Linked DNA regions of Homo sapiens: region 1 is linked to region 2. Evidence: fine-mapped expression QTL. A gene starts in region 2. The other region holds a variant in brackets. All regions are shown on one strand. Distances are between the middles of the regions. Region 1 has its middle 3.0 kb from the start of LINC01620. Region 2 holds the start of SERINC3 (serine incorporator 3).

Region 1 (2,917 bases), 54 kb before region 2:
TGGGCTTTTAAAAAACAGTTACTGGTTGTCACAGCAGAGCTTTCTAGAAACATCTTACAAGTCATGTCCACCACCCCCAGCCTCAGTTTTTTCATATCCTTACTGCGGGTGGCAGCACCTTACTGGGTGGGGGTTTGTGGTGAGGGCTGAGTGAAGTAGTGAATTTGCGGAGCTAACACTCCAGAATTCCACAATCACAGACCTGCAAATTCCATCTCCGTGGGACCATTTACAAGTGATGTGGCTTCTCTGAGTCTGTTTACTCCTTTGTTAAATGGAAGAGCCTCTACTCCATTGCATCTCTGTAAGGTTAGTTAAGTGAATACATATGACATGCTTAGCACGGGACCTGGCACCTGGTAAGAACTCAGTCCATGCTGGGCGTTTTTAATACAACGGTGGGTGGCTGGTACTGACGGAGGGGATTTGGGATCTCCACCCCTTCCGTTTCCCTCACTATTCCAGGCCCTGTTTTGGAAATGCTTCAGCCAGGCTGGGATCCAGGGCCCCTGGGAACAGAGAGGACATACTGTACCTCCAAGCAGCCATGCTGACTCAGGTTAGGAAATCAATGTGTGACCACAAAAACACAGCCAGGTTCTTCCCACTTCTGGGAAATCTGCACAGCCAACCCATGGGCATCTCTTTACCCTGTCCCGAGAGGTGGCCAGCTTCGTTCTAGGACCTGATTCTGCAGCTTGTGAGCACAAGGCTGGCACATGGAGAAACAGGAGTCTCTCGCTCCTTAGGGAACCCCAGGCCCGGGGTCACAAGCTTTGCACGACCCTCTGATTGGGGTCAAACATGTCTGGTGTTTGCGAAGCCTCTGACTTCCCCCAGCCTGCGTCTGGACACTTCTCAAGCCAAGCCAGGCTCCGGACCACTGGTTGGGCAACGCATGACCTCAAACTGGGTCAGACCCATCAGATGAGCATCTGTTTAAGAGTATAGGACACTTTGTTCTTTAGAATCCCAAGGGTCAGAGTATGAACCCTCCCCGTCCCCAATTCAAACTCCTCCTCCATCACTTACTGCCATTTACTTACTCTGTTACTTTGAGCAAGTTTTTCAGCTCTCTGAGTTCTAGTTTTCCTAGCCACCAAATGCAGACTAACAAGTACCTTCACCTTCCAGGGTTGATGTGAGATTCGGGTAGTGAATGTCAAAGAATGGCACACATATTAGCAGGCACTCCATAAGGGGGAGTTATTATTGCAAACAGGGGCACTAGACACCAAGTAAAAAACAGTATGGTACATATGCTACAGTGGATGAGAGGGCAGAGCTGAAAGCCAGACTGCCTGGGTTCCAAACCAGGCTACTGGCCAGGTGCGGTGGCTCATGCCTGTAATCCTAGCACTTTGGGAGGCCAAGGCGGGTGGCTCACTTGAGGCCAGGAATTCGAGACCAACCTGGCCAATATGGCGAAACCCCATCTCTACTAAAAATGCAAATAAAATTAGCTGGGCGTGGTGGCATGTCCCTGTAATCCCAGCTACTCAGGAGACTGAGGCAAGAGA[A/G]TAGCCTGAACCCAGGAGGCAGAGGTTGCAGTGAGCCAAGATTGTGCCACTGCACTCCAGCCTGGGCCACAGAGTGAGACGCTGCCTCAAAACAAAATAATACAAAACAAAACAGGCTGCCCTGCCACCTCCTGTGTGGCCACAGGGAAAGTCTCTAAGCCTCAGTTTTCTTCTCTGTAAAATGGGAATAATCATAATACAGTTATAAGGATTCAATTAGATTAGTTGCACTGGAAACAGTGCCTGGCACATAGTATCACCTAATAACCATTAACGATTTTTTATTTTGTTTTATTTTTCCAGTCTCTGCCCCAGTTGGGAAGCATGAACTATTTTTAATTAGCCACACAAGTTAGTAATGTCGGTAATGGTGCTGAAATCACACGGGTCAGTGTTTTGAACAAAATTCACATGGAAGTCATATTTAGTGAGCATCTACCTACATACCTGGTGCTAACAGAAACCATACATTTAGATACATGTATATGTACATGTAAACACACATATGCACACACACATAGTGTGAAGTAAGTGTTGCTGTCCTCATTTTTTAAAACCTTTATATTATAGAGCAAAACAGTTGCAGAAAACCACACAAATTAAATTTGTAGCAGCCAGGTGCAGTGGCTTACACCTGTAATCCCACCACTTTGAGAAGCCGAGGTGAGTAGATCACTTGAGCTCAGGAGTTTGAGACCAACCTGGGGAACATGGCAAAACCTGAAATGCCATCTCTACGAAAAATACATAAATTAGCCAGGCATGGTTGGCACGTACCTGTAGCCCCAGTTACTCAGGAGGCTGAAGCAGGAGGATTACTTGAGTCTAGGGAGGTCTGAGGCCACAGTGAGCTGAGATCACACTACTGTACTCCACCCCAGGCAACAAAGTGAGACACTATCTCAAAAAAAAAAAATTGTAGCTTAGTGAGTTATATCAAGGCAAACACCCTGTAACCACCACCCCGGTCAAAATACAGAATTTTTTCAGCCACCTCAGGGTTCCCCTCCCCACCTCACCAGGTACTCCATACCAATCACAGCCCATCCCCCCAAAATAATCACTAATCCGACTATTAATTACTTCCTTGCATTTCTTCATGACTTAATCATCTGAGTGTGCATTCCTAGATGTTATTGTTTAGTTGAGTCCACTTTTTATTTTTATTTATTTATTTTTTGTTGAGATGGAGTCTCGCTCAACCGCCCAGGCAGTGGCATGATCTTTCTTGGCTCACTGCAACCACCGTCTACCGTGTTCAACAGATTCTCCTGTCTCAGCCTCCCCAGTAGCTGGGATTACAGGCACCCACCATCATACCTGGCTAATTTTTGTATTTTAGTAGAGACGGAGTTTCTCCATGTTGGTCAGGCTGGTCTCGAACTCCGGACCTCAGG
Region 2 (2,917 bases):
TCTCGCTTACAAGTGGGAGCTAAACACTGGGAACACAGACACGAAGATGGCAACAATAAACACTGGAGAGTCCAAGAGTGGGGAAGGACGGTGGGGGGATAGGGGTTGAAAAACTACCTGTTGGATACTGTGTTCACTGTTTGGGCAACGGAATCATTAGAAACCCAAACCTCACGATAAGGCAATATACCCATGTAACAAAACTGCATATGTACCCTCTGAATCTAAAATTAAAAATACATAAATACACAAAATAAAATACTTTTATAATAAACCAGTAAACATGTTTCCTTGAGTTTTGTGACCAAATTAATCAAAGCCAAGGAGGGAGGTCACGGGAACTTTGATTTATAGGTGGCCGGTCAGAAGCACAGGTAAAACAACCTGAGGCTTGCCATTGGCACAGAAAGTGGGCACAGTCTTGTGAGACTGAGCCCTCCACTTGTGTGATTTGATGCTATCTCCAAGTAGAGAGCTTCGGAATTGACTTGTAGGGCACCAAGTTGGCATCCCCTGCAGAGCTGACTGTTTGCCTGATGTTTGGGGGAAAATCCCCACACACCACACATCAGGTGTCAAAAGTGTGTTGTGAGTACAGCAGGAGAAACTGAGTGTGCTTTTTCTACACACTTGGTCAATTAAATCAGCTGGAGAATGAGGAATCAAGGAATCACGCTCCTCTGAAGTGGGTAAATGAGGGAACTCAGCATATTCTTTTATAGGCCCTATAATTTTCTCTTTAAAATGTTTACAGTTTACAAGGTGATTAAACCTTCACTTCACTGTCACAATCGTTCTCGAAGAGAGGAATGCTGGGGTGATTATCCTCGGATAAATGACTTACAGCAGTCCCAAAATATTCAGGCCCTGGTTTCCAATTTTGAATAACAATCCACAAGGGCTTCTTTCCCTTGCACCTGAACTGCAGACAAGCCTCCGCTAAAACCCCAGCTTTGCCACACACTCTGTAGTTTTGGCAAATCCCGTGCTAGGGGATAAAAATATTACTTGAGCCACCTAGAACTAAATGATGGCACCTTAAGAGGTGCTTCGGGAGGAACCGGAGCCCCTCGCTGGGAGCTGTCATTCCTTGGTCCCTCTCCAGCTCCAGAGGAACCTAGTCAGGAAGCCTCGCAGGGCGGAGCCATCCGAATTGTAAACAATGGCGGCCTAGCCTCTTCCGTTCCCCGAGGAACCCGGAGGGCGAGCCGCCTAAGCTGGACCTGAGGGTATCGCGGATTTGCGTCTGGGGCCCCGGAGACCCTCTGTAGCCCAGGGCCTGCTGACATCCCGAGAGCCTCTGGAGCCAAGGCCCGTGCAGCTCTGGTCTCGAGGCCTTTCCCCGCAAACCGCAGGTCCGGCGAGGACTCGGGACCCCGAACTCACCCAGCTGGCGAGGGAGAAGACACCCAGCACAGCCCCCATGGTGACGCCAGTGATGGAGGTGGCCGGTCCTGAGGCTGCTTTCTAACACGGTGGTAACTGCCAGCTGAGGTGACTCCCCAGAAACATGACGGTTTCTCAGGCCGGAAACGCAGCCTTCCACAGACGCACGGATGCGTCACGGCGTGGCCCCGCCCACCGTCCGCGACCGGAGCGGCAGAGGGGGGCGCCTGTCATTGGCTGAGGGGGAAGGTGGGGCTAAACCATCCTGGGGTTGCAGGAACTGTGAAGGTGTCATTCCTTACATCATTTGTATTCATTGTGCAAAGATCTGGAAGTTACAGAAGTGTACAGAGAGGCACAGTACGCTCAGAATTTATTCTCTAGTTAATAGGAGATCTGACAACATAAATGCACCGTGCCCCAATGTAATGAATACGATGAAGTAGTATGGGGGAATAGGCTTTCAATAAAGGTGTATTTAGTGCCTCCTATTGTAAGGGGAAAGTAATTTAGCTGGGCAGTAGTCTTGGAAGGCTTCTCTGAAGGATTTATTTTTTAATCTGCGAACTAAAGGATGAGTCCAAATTAACCTAGAAACGATGGAAATCGTATCCTAAAATGTGGGATGCACCCCATTTGGGAAAAATGAATGGCTCTAAGGGTGCATGAAGGACATTAAGCGATATTAAACAGCAGAGTGAGAACGTCCCATTTCAAACCAACAGGCTAGTTGTTTGAGGCCAGTATGGTATTTAACATTTTTCTAGTATTTATCTCCCTTTCTAACAGAGTAAAGCCTTCATTTTCCAGATCTCTCAAACAGGCAACCATGCCTGCAGTTTTAAAATATTGTTTTGTTTTGAGGTGTGTGTTAGCAATAACCTTTTCATTTCTTCCGAGCAATGCTGATTTCCCATTTAAGCAGTGATGTAAATATTCCTTTCAAAATACATGTCAAATTTGAGAGTTCACTTAAAGAAGAAAATGAAAACATTTTTTACTTACACATATAATAGTTTAGGTGGAATGTGGCAAACAATGATGATGTCCGGACAACAAGGTGTCACACTTCAATATCTTCTCCTGTGGTGTGTTAATCTTCCCTGATAGATAAAACTCTCTGGAAGGGGATTCATAATTGAATTCCTTCTGGATTGTCAGCCTTTAGTCTGATAAGGGAAATTCATGAAAAGCCCCTCTCTCCATGTGCTGTTCCCCAAGCAATCATCATACCAGTGTGGCATATTTGGGGATGTTATTTCCTGGATTCCTTGAAAATGTATTCCAAATTCATCTTTTACAGAAATGGAATGAGGCTCAAAGTTTGCCCAAGGCCATGAAAAGGGCTGATGAAAGAAGAAAGAGAACTACTCACATTTAATAATTCCTACCTCTCTTTTCCCAGATCCCTCTCCTCACCACACATACACAAATACCAGCTCAAGTCAAGTTGCTTCAGGACCACTGAACTTTCCAGGTAGTCCTTAACATTCTTGCTTCTTCCTGTCTGAGTATTGCTGGTCTGGACTTA

What was found. PIP is the estimated chance that this variant, and not a neighbour inherited with it, causes the effect.
Region 1: its variant is the best candidate, but not a certain one, in a credible set for the expression of SERINC3 in whole blood (INTERVAL, PIP 0.61).

The regions. Positions count from the first base shown.
Region 1 is chr20:44,466,880-44,469,796 of GRCh38, forward strand. No RefSeq gene overlaps it. Among named protein-coding and RNA genes, the nearest start is that of LINC01620, 3.0 kb to the left of the region's middle. The variant A/G (reference allele first, on the strand shown) is at 1,521.
Region 2 is chr20:44,520,527-44,523,443 of GRCh38, forward strand. It overlaps SERINC3 (serine incorporator 3), which reads right to left and starts at 1,544. Exons shown (of 10, transcript NM_006811.4): 1 at 1,387-1,544. The coding sequence starts at 1,425. RefSeq lists enhancers at 755-1,307, 1,226-1,535, 1,442-1,736.